Linked DNA regions of Homo sapiens. The protein of the gene in region 3 interacts with the protein of the main gene of each other region in a pairwise test. Each region holds a gene or a part of one and is shown on either strand. Other genes may lie near its edges. The genes, in order: ZMAT4, UBXN7 and CUL4B.

Region 1 (3,656 bases), on a different chromosome or scaffold from region 3:
CCTCCCAAGTAGCTGGGATTATAGGTGCGCACTGCCACACCTGGTTAATTTTTGTATTTTAATACAGACGGGGTTTCACCATATTGGCCAGGCCGGTGTTGAACTCCTGACCTCAGGCAATCTGCCCACCTCAGCCTCCCATTCAGCATCTTTTTTTTCTTTTTTAAACACTGCTACTCTACAAAAGCATTTGGTAAAGAAGGCAGTTAAAGATAAAGCAGAAGGAAAACAATCTGGTTCATGAATGTGCCTTTGGTCTGAAAAGCAGTCAATAAAAATATGAAAATAAACACTTTGAAACAAAGGAGATTATAAAAATTAAACTAAAGCAAGCCTTCTGCTCATTTCCTTTCTTGTCCATTTCTTTTGGGTGAGCCTCACTTTTTCCTTAATAATTAAAGCAAGAAGAAGAATCATTCCGATTTGTGAAAGCCGCATCTTTTCTCTGAAAGCCCAGTTTTGTGGCAGAAGTGAGAAGAGCTGCCCTTACCTCTCAGTTCCCCCATATCCAGGGTTGTCCCCAGTTGTTCTAACAAAGCAACTCTTGCCGCATTCTTTTTGTGTTTCTTGCCATCATAATGTTGCTGGGCCATCAGAGGGTTATTAAACCAGGCTGCACAGAGCCCACAGTATCTGTCTGAATCTCTTCTTTGATAGGGAGATGCGACCACCGGAGCAGTGTCCATCCGTGGGGGCTTAAGTGGGCTCAGGGGTGTTGCTGTGAAAGGAAACAACCAGAGAACCACAGCCACGTTAGTCCAACACTGAGTCCACTCTTCCTCAATACCCGAAGACCAAAAGTCTCCTGTTCACTCTAGAGCTTAAACATCCCCAAGAGTTCATTGACAGCAGGAAAATTAGCCCTGCCAGCTTTCATTTTTGAGTTGGGACACAAATAAAAATTCTTAATGTATTGAGATCAGAGTTTGCATGTCGTTATACCAAAATCTGATAATTCAAGAGACCATCCCTTAGGGGAATAATAAGATTTTTAAAAATAAATTCTCAGTTATTCCCACTGTGGCTCTCAGGAGCTATGGACAGTAGCTCTAAGTATTTGGCTGCCTGGAGTAGCTTTGAAAACACGGTTATTGAAGGCCTTTCCCACTCACTTTTAAAATGCATTCTGCTCTAACATTGGCATTTAGAGAAAAAAAATGTAGTAAAATACAGGGGACAAGCTCAATGAGCCAGGTAAAACTTGAGCAATAACTTAATTTTTCTAGCATCACTAATAATGCAATAAGCCTATTGTAATTGCCTTCAATTATTTTTGTGTGTGTATAACACTAAAAATAAATATTGGATAAAATGCAACTAAATAAATAAATTCTTAGAGGTAAGGGAGTGATCTATCAGTCAAAATAAAGCTAATACTTGAAGTAAACATTGGACAGTCATGACTTAAAAGATTCCGAATGAATGAATTGGACGTTTGTGTGCTATAAATGTAATTAACCAATAAATAAAGGATTTGGCTAAGTGGTAGAAACTGATCTTTTGGTGACATGGGTTGCATTAATTGAGGAAGTCATGCTAATTTTATTGTCAGCTGCTTCAGTTTATTGTAATAGGCTGTTTTCAACCTCTACCTGCTCACGTTGATGCTGAAATAACAATGTTTTTTTAAAAATCAAAAGAAAAATACTATAGATCAGGTGTACTTATCTAAACAGAATAGACATGTATCACTATTTTGAGATTGCATTGTTCCACCTATTAAATTAACACATTTTACTGTGAGCTTAGGATTATTTCTGGTCCAGAAAACAAACAAACAAAAAAGAGCCTAACTTGAAGGAGCTTACTAATGGAAAGTAAAAATAACTTTTCTATGTATTACAACATACAAGTTGCTTCCATCCTTACAAGGACTATGACTTGGCCTTTTATCCCATTTCTCAGATGAGAGATTGATTTCAGAAATGCCAGTGGCTTACTGAAGGTGAGATATCTAGTGATGGGAAAAACAGGACTAAAATGAAATCTGGAATTCCCAAAGCCAATGTTCCCTTCAATACTTTCCCAAGGATCCTTTTCATACTTCTTAATAAGCTAAGGGACTTTTTTTCTAGATCCATCATCTTTCTATTTCATATAGGATTTCATTAAATTTTGGAAAAAATATTCCGATCCAAATATTTTGGAGAAGAAATCAGTATGTAAATTCTCACATGGGCCATTAGTCCTAAAGCAGTATAGCAGCATCCTGTGTGTGTTCTTGGTCTCTGAGATGTAGGATGCAGCTGGCAAAACCACGAGCATTAGGGTTGTCGTTCCAAGGAAAAGCTGAGGTCCGAGACCTCAATAACAAGTTAAGGAACCAATTAACCAACACCCCAAGCTTTCAGGTAACTTTTAGGTGGACTTTTTTTTTGATTAAATAACTTATATAGAAACAAATACTTGTTAAGTGACATTTTAATTCAAGTAATGCCTGTATCATAACAGTATTTCTAAGAAGCTCTTTTTTCTTTATCCAGAGATTTCATTATATCGAGAAGTTTTAGCTAGTTTAGATTAAACTTAATGGTGTTATTTTTACAGGGACTCACAAACAGTACGCCCCTTAAAAGACTCATTGTGGGATTTGGTCATGTTATCACCATGTAGAAATAAAGCTCAAATGTGGGCCATTCCAGCAGCCACCCAGTATCATTCTGCTATGACTTAGAAATAAAAGCTACAAATATGCAGTTGACCTGGATGTGAAAAGATCTCTATCCACTTTTCTGAAGGTAATTGAATCTCACTTTCAAAGCTTCCCAAATCCTTATCAATTTCTGAGGATTTATAATTAGCTATTGTTTTTGATGGCAATGGAAAACATATCAAATGTCTACAATATGAATAAATGTTGACTCTTGAAGCATAATTTATTTTTCTTTAAAGTAAGCCCTATAAAACATTTTAGTCGATTTTATCAACTGATACCTTCTACACCATATCCTGGTAGGAGTGAGGCACAATAGAATATTCATCAAATAAGATAATCTTATCTTGCACATAAGAAAGTAATTTGATGTAGCTTCTCCCTCTGAATAATTCCACTATCTTGTGTATAGTCTGAAAGTTTAAAGGATTTTTTTTTTTTTTTTGCTTCTGTTGTAACTGTCTTCACTCATTTCAACCCAGCTTATATTCCTTTAGTGCCTATAAAAGCAGGCAAAGGCAGTAGCATAAAAACAGCCTTGAATCAAAGACAGAACTCTGGTTGGGTGGGACTCCACTATCAGTGAGCTGTGTGACCTTTGGCAAATTTCTAACGTCCCTGGTTTCCTCAAGGTAAAAATTCAGACACACCATCTCTTTTAAAATTAACATACTTTGCAGCTAACCCATAGGGTGTGGACAGAACAAATTGTGGAAGCTCTGTCCCTTCTACAGCTTTGATTCAATACCAAATATAGAAATTATGTGGGAGGAGAGCAGTTTCCAGGTTTTAATGATAAATCTGTGTGTGTACATGAACCCTAACACTTACATGCTTTGGCAGAGTGTATTATTCCAATAAAATGAATGAAGAATGGGGCAAAGATTATCTTTTGGTTTAAAAACATGCTTTAAAAAACACTTTAGTTGACATGTAGTTAATTTCTATTTTGATTTCATAGTTTGTTTTTATTCTAATTGCAAAAAATATTAACTAAATATTT
Region 2 (3,656 bases), on a different chromosome or scaffold from region 3:
CATTCATAACTCTCAACCATATACATCTTAATAAATCACAATATATTAAGATTATGGGCCAGGCATGGTGGCTCACGCCTGTAATCCCAGCACTTTAGGAGGCCGAGGCGAGTGGATCACAAGGTCAGGAGATTGAGACCATCCTGGCCAACATGGTGAAACCCCGTCTCTACTAAAATACAAAAATTAGCCGGGCCTGGTGACAGGCGCTTGTAGTCCCAGCTACTCGGGAGACTGAAGCAGGGGAATCGCTTGAACCCGGGAGGCAGAGACTGCAGTGAGCTGAGATCGTGCCACTGCACTCCTGCCCAGCGACAATGCAAGACTTGTCTCAAAAAAAAAAAAAAAAAAAAAAGATTATGGCTCCACATGGTGGCTCGCACCTATAACCCTAGCACTTTGTAGGGCAGAGGCAGAGGACAGCTTGAGGCCAGGAGTTTGAGACCAGCCTGGGCATCTCCACGAGAAGTTTTTTTGTTTTTTTTTGTTTGTTTGTTTGTTTTTAAATTAGCCAGGTTTAATGGTGTGCACCTATAGTCCCAGCAACTCAGGAGACTGAGGTGGGAAGATCCCTTGAGCCTATAGGGGTTAGAGCCTGCAGTGAGCTATGACTGCACCACTGTGTTCCGGCCTGGGTGACAGAGCAAGACCCTGTCCATTTATTTAAAAAAAAAAAGAAAAAAGAAAAGAAAAGAAAGAAAGAAAAAAAGATTATAAGCTCAAGAGTCCAGCACAGTGCTAAGCAAAGAGCTGCTCGATCAATATTTGTTGAATAAAATACAAGGAATTTTACCATTAAAGTTACATTAAATTTAGGGGCCTGTAAAATATAAACAGGCAAATTAATAACATTAATAGCATATCTTACAGTAGGGGAAAAAATTAAGCTCCTTCATAAGTTTTTATTTTCTATAACTTTTCACAAAATAAAAAATAAAAAAATTGAGCCGGCACGGTGATTCATGCCTATAATCCCAGCACTTTGGGAAGCCAAGGGAAGCAGATGGCTTGGGCCCAGGAGTTCGAGACGAGCCTGGGCAATATGGCAGGACCCCATCTCTACAAAAAAAAAAAAAAAAAAAAAATTATATGGGCATAGTGGTGCATGTTTGTGGTCCCAACTACTCAAGAAACTGAGGTGGAAGGATCATTTGAGCCCAGGAGGTCAAGGCTGAGCCATGTTCATGCCACTGCATTGCAGCCTGGGTGACAGAGCAAAACCCTGTCTCACAGTGGGGGAAAAATGATACAAGGTCTGTAACCTTATCTCATTAGCTGGGAAGACTAAAGTGACATGTCTAAGAACACAGAGTTAAAAAGTATCAAACTCAAGCTAAAATCTAAGTCTTAGCCAAATGCTTCCAATTACCTCAAGATCTTCTATACCTGCACTGTCTAATACAGCAACCACTACCCACAAGTGGCTACTGAAGCACCTGAAATCTTGCTACTCCAAATGGAGAAGGGGTGTAAGTATAAAATACAAACCATATCTTGAAGACTCAACACCAAATAAATGCAGATCATCTCATTATTTTTGTATTAGTTATATAGATATATTGATTTAACCAAATACATTATTACAGTTAATTTCATCTATTTTGATTAATCTTTTTTAATGTGGCTACTGGAAAAATTTAAATTATGTGTACAGCTTACAATATATTTCTACTGAACAGTACAGTTTGTTTGTTTTGTTTTGTTTGAGATGGAGTCTAGCTCTATTGTTCAGGCTGGAGTGTAATGGTGTGATCTTGGCTCACTGCAGTCTCCGCTACCCGGGTTCAAGTGATTCTCCTGCCTCAGCCTCCCGAGTAGCTGGGATTACAGGTGCCTGCTGCCACACCTGGCTGATTTTTTGTATTTTTAGGAGAGACAGGGTTTCACCATGTTGGCCAGGCTGGTCTCAAACTCCTGACCTCAGGTGATCCGCCGGCCTCAGCCTCCCAAAGTGCTGGGATTATAGGCGTGAGCTACTGCCCCCAGCCGGCTTTACCTTTTTTTAAATGTCTTAATTCATTATAACCCAATTCCTTTCCCTCAACAACCCACACTACAAAAGTAAAATTCTACAAAACTTCTGATTAACTCTCCTTCTCACCTGCCAGAAAATGAAATGTTCCCGGATAATATTCTTCACAGCTTCGTTGCTCCACACATCGCGGTTGAGGCACTGACATGCAAAGTCTTGAACATTTTGAATGTTTATCATCAGCCACTTATTTTGCATCTGGCCACACTCTTTGGCCTGCAAGAGTAAAGTTACACATTTGTTAGAAATAATTTCTACTTAGTGACAGATGTTTCCGTAGTTGTTCAGAGGTTGTTGTCTTTCATTAAAAATACTAAGTTTTTGCCAGATACGACATCTAGAGTTTTCAGCATTTATACATTCTATATATTTACTTCGCATATGCATTTATAGCTATACTGTCCATTTCAAGCACTGCTCAAATTTAAATGAACTCATTTCTCTTTTATCCAGTTATTTGTTATAATAGCTGATTCTCTCTCTCTCTCTCTCTCTCTCTCCTTTCTTTCTTTCTTTCTTTTTTTTTTTTTTTTGAGACAGAGTCTAACTCTATTGCCCAGGCTAGAGTACAGTGGGGCAGTCTCGGCTCACTGCAACCTCCACCTCCTGAGTTCAAGTGATTCTCCCGCCGCAGCCTCCCAAGTAGTTGGGATTAAAGGCGTGCCCCAACACGCCTGGCTGATTTTTGTATTTTTAGTAGAGATGGGGTATCAACATGTTGGCCAGGCTGGTCTCGAACTTCTGACCTCAAATGACCCGTCCACCTTGGCCTCCCAAAGTGCTGGAATTACAGGTGTGACTCATCATGACCGGTAATGGCTGAATTTTTAATGTATGTTTAAACATCTTTACCTGAAAAGGATTCAACAAACTTAAGATCAACAAGTCACGTAATTTTATTCTCTTGCAACCTCCATCAACAATTTTTTTTTTTTTTGAGACGAGCTTTGCTCTTGTTGCCTAAGTCGGAGAACAATGGCACGATCTCGGCTCACTACAACCTCCACCTACTAGGTTCAAGTGATTCTTCTGCCTTAGCCTACCGAGTAGCTGGGATTACAGGTGTGTGCCACCATGCCTGACTAATTTTTTATATATTTTTAGTAAAGAGACGGGGTTTCACCATGTTGGCCAGGCTGGTCTCAAACTCCTGACCTCAGGTGACGCACCCATCTCAGCCTCCCAAAGTGCTGGGATTATAGGCGTGAGCCACCGCGCCCAGCCAATTATACTTCTTTTTAATGAATGCAATTGGTGTGTATATTTTACTTTGTTTTCTTCAACATCATTTCTGGAACATTTTTAAACATCATATTAATCTCAGTTATTAGGCATATATGCTGTTTTGGAGAATCACCCTAAACATTTTAGTAAAAACTGCTGAGAGTTTTTTCTCTTAAGAGTTGTCTTCCTAGGAGTAGATTCCAAAAATTGGGATTACAAGGTCAAAGAATGTTTGAGAATGATCCCCAAACAACTCTACGATTCGTACAACAGATATCGATACATCAATCGTTAGTGCGTACTTTTTGCCTGTCAGTCCCTTGTCAGCATAAAGACCCATGAAATGCTGCTGAGTGGAAAACAATGGCAGAAAAGCAAATAAGCAAATGCTGCCTCAAAT
Region 3 (3,656 bases):
ATATAGTGAATAAACTTGAAAATTTCAAACACTCATTTAGCAGTTAAACTTTCAGGTATCCAGGCTTTTCTGTTATTTTTCCCTTTTGTCACTGCTGCCCACATATGCCAACAAAGTTTTTTTTTTTGGAAATCATATGCATCAACATGGGAAATTAAAACTTTTCTCTCTCTAAATGGTCATGACGCTTTATGTTTGCAAGATTTGTGTCTGAAAATCTAATGTACTTTCTTTTATTTATAACACGCTCAATAGGAAAACACAGAAGTACCTACCTTTACTGGAAATTTCAACTGGTTGTACACTTCTGAAACAAGGAGATTGTGGCTAAGTGTCTTTCTCATCTTCATAATTCGAACAATTGCAGCATCAATTTGATACTGTCTGTCTTGAAATACTCTTTCTGTAGTGCTTGCTTGTTCTTCAACCTAACAAAAAAGTTTTAAACCTAGGAATTATACCAGAAGCAAAACCTGACTATTTACATAAATTGTGCATTTTAGGGACATGACATTGTTATTGCTTTAAAGGTACTGAATTATCTAAATGGGGTCTTATAAATATAGATGCTGACAGAGAAAAATCCTACAAACATAACTCCTTTCTGTTCTGATTATATTGCCCTATACCAATGAAGTAATGCTAATATTAGTTAATAGAAAAACATCATCTTTGAATTGCTTTTCTAGAAGTAGAGATAGCTGATGTGGAATTTACCATTTTGTTTTTTTACTCTGTCTTTGATATATCTTCTAAATGTGTGTATCAGTTTCAATGGATTGTTAACCAGATTTCTCTATGACAATAGCTTGTCTATAAGGTGACTCTGTCTGATCTCTGACTCAAGGCATGGTATTAACTGGCTAAGCAAACTAGTTAAGAGTCAACCTCTTTGAAAATTAATTTTTATTTTGTAATATATAAATCAGACATGCATGCCATTAGTGCTTACAATCCTTCAAGACTTACAGAAATGTAGGTATTTAGGAGGCGGTTTACCAATCTTGATGCTAAAGTAAAAATGTTCATCTTTAGTAATTAAACCAAAAAAACAGTTTGGCCTTTTTGCAGCAGTTTCTTCCTGGTACAGCATAAATGTTTTAAAAGTAAGGACATGGTAATCCTTTAAGAAAATATCCTGTCTTTGATGTGTATGTGAAAATGACAGGAACTTGTTTGGAGATACTGGTCGCTGTCCTACATTAAAATTTTTTCAGTCGGGCTCAGTGGCTCACACCTATAATTCCAGCACTTTGGGAGGCCGAGATGGGCGGATCATGAGGTCAGGAGTTCAAGACCTGCCTGGTCAATATGGTGAAAACCCATCTCTACTTAAAATACAAAAATTAGCCGGGCATGGTCGCTCACGCATGTAGTCCCAGCTACTCAGGAGGCTGAGGCAGGATAATCGCTTGAACCTGGAAGGCGGAGGCTGCAGTGAGCCAAGATCGTGCCACTGACTCCAGCCTGGGTGACAGAGTGAGACTCCACCTCAAAAAAAAAATTTTTTTTTTTTCAAATATTGCATTAAACCTTATTGGAACTGAAACCATCAGTTTCAGGATGCTGCAGTTGGAAGTCTCTTACAAATTCAAATGGCAAAAACAAACAAAATATTCACCTTCCCTGTTTTTGTTTTTTTTTTCTTTTTTTTAAACAGAGTCTCACTGTCACCCAGGCTGCAGTGCAGTGGCGCGATCTCAGCTCACTGCAACCTCCACATCCCGGGTTCAGGTGATTCTCATGCCTCAGCCTCCCAAGTAGCTGGGACTACAAGCACGCACCACCACGCCCAGCTGATTTTTGTATTTTTAGTAGAGACAGGGTATCGCCATGTTGGCCAAGCTGGTTTTGAACTCCTGACCTCAGGTGATCTGCCCGCCTCGGCCTCCCAAGGTACTGGGATTACAGGTGTGAACCACCGTACCTGGCCCACCTTCACTGTTAATCAAATAAATAGTGAATAAATCAATTCAGATTTTTCACCAAGCAAGTTGGCAAAAGAAAATATAATCTTTAGTGCTGGGGGACATAGTAAGACAGGCTCTCATATGCTGCTGGACAGAGTATAAACTGGTCCAGCCTTTCCGGAACACAATATGACATTATGTACTAAGACTCCTAAAATGTTCATACCCTTTAACCCAAAAAAATCTACTTCCACAAATTTATCATATATCAGAGATTAAAATTTAGTTTCAAAGAGGTTTCTTGCAATCTTATTTATAATACTAATAAGTCATGAATTTAATTGCCCCAAAATGAACAGTGGTTGAACAAACTATAAGAGCCATGTAAAAATATTACACTGCCATCTGCCATTTTTCGAAGCTATTTAATGGCATGGAAAAATTCTAAAGATTGAATACTAAATAAACAAAGTAAGATATGAAACTATGTTGAGTATCATCTCAATCCTGTACAACCACTCTCCCAAACACCCAAAATCAAATCAGGAAACATATTTAGCTGGACATAGACACAAAAAATATTAATGGTATTGGCAGTATTACAGGTATAAAAATCTTTATATATTTTGATTATTAACATGTATAATTCCAGTGTGTTAGGACTAAGAGAAAGTGAAAGAAATACCGTTTCTTTCATCTGGATTTGATTGATCTTTATCCTGAAAAGTTTATGTTTGAAATCATCATTACAAATGAACTTGTCACCATCTTCAATGTCTTTGCCCTTTGGATTTTTCGCCAGAACTCTAGCTTTGCCACAGGCTAATGACTGCAGTGTTCTCCTTAACTCTCCATCCTCTGAAGAAGAAACAGAGGTTTAGTTATTTGTTACCAGCATGAACAACTACGACATTCTACCTCAATCTAGCTTCCACTCCATCCCCCTATTAAAACTATTTCATTTTTTCCCAAAGGTCACCAACAACTTTTCTTTGTTCTAGCCAATGGCTTTTTTCCTAGTCCTCTTCTTTTTTAAAAAAAATAGAGGCGGGGTTTCACCATGTTGCCCAGGCTGGTCTCAAACTCCTGAGCTCAAGTGATCCACCCGCCTTGGCCTCCCAAAGTGCTGGGATTACAGATGTGAGCCACCACGCCCGGCCCCTAGTCCTCTTTTAAAGACGTCAATTATCATACCATGTGGGCAACTACCAAATATTCCAAAATGACATTTCACTTCTCTCCAGTTGCACGTTTAAAGGGCAATTCCGCCTGGCTGTTTTACTATCAACTGTAGTTACGTCCAAAATTTGATTCATCATCTCCATATAACTGTGTCCTCTTTCCAATTGTCAGTGGTGATACCACTAACCTTCTCAGTTGGGAAACCCTAAAATCATCTTTTAACTTTTCCTTCTCCTTCATCCTCAACATAATAGCTAGCCGCTGCTTCCGCAGAGATGAGTTTTCTCCATTTTCATGGTCTCATTCTAGTCTAAGTCCCTTCTACTTTATGCCTGAATCATCCCAATAGCATCTAAACTGGAATCCCTTGATCCTTCCAGTTGCCCTGTAGATTGATTTCAGTAAGTGGTCCAAATAATTACTTCCACCATGCCACATAGTTGAGACACTACAGTGTAGGTTTCATTTGCTAGACTTATCAGGTTCTCCACAATCAGGCCCTACTCATCTTACCTAATTTTTTAACTCACTATTCTATGTTACAATTAAGCTCTTCATGATTCT

Evidence for each region.
Region 1: the proteins of CUL4B (region 3) and ZMAT4 interact in binary tests that used the Homo sapiens proteins (3 or more experiments, as listed by UniProt).
Region 2: the proteins of CUL4B (region 3) and UBXN7 interact in binary tests that used the Homo sapiens proteins (3 or more experiments, as listed by UniProt).

The regions. Positions count from the first base shown.
Region 1 is NC_000008.11:40,674,214-40,677,869, forward strand, and holds part of ZMAT4 (zinc finger matrin-type protein 4), read right to left. Parts: intron 719-3,656; coding exon 491-718; intron 1-490.
Region 2 is NC_000003.12:196,369,795-196,373,450, forward strand, and holds part of UBXN7 (UBX domain-containing protein 7), read right to left. Parts: intron 2,249-3,656; coding exon 2,102-2,248; intron 1-2,101. UniProt on the Homo sapiens protein: Ubiquitin-binding adapter that links a subset of NEDD8-associated cullin ring ligases (CRLs) to the segregase VCP/p97, to regulate turnover of their ubiquitination substrates.
Region 3 is NC_000023.11:120,529,827-120,533,482, forward strand, and holds part of CUL4B (cullin-4B), read right to left. Parts: intron 2,769-3,656; coding exon 2,596-2,768; intron 429-2,595; coding exon 276-428; intron 1-275.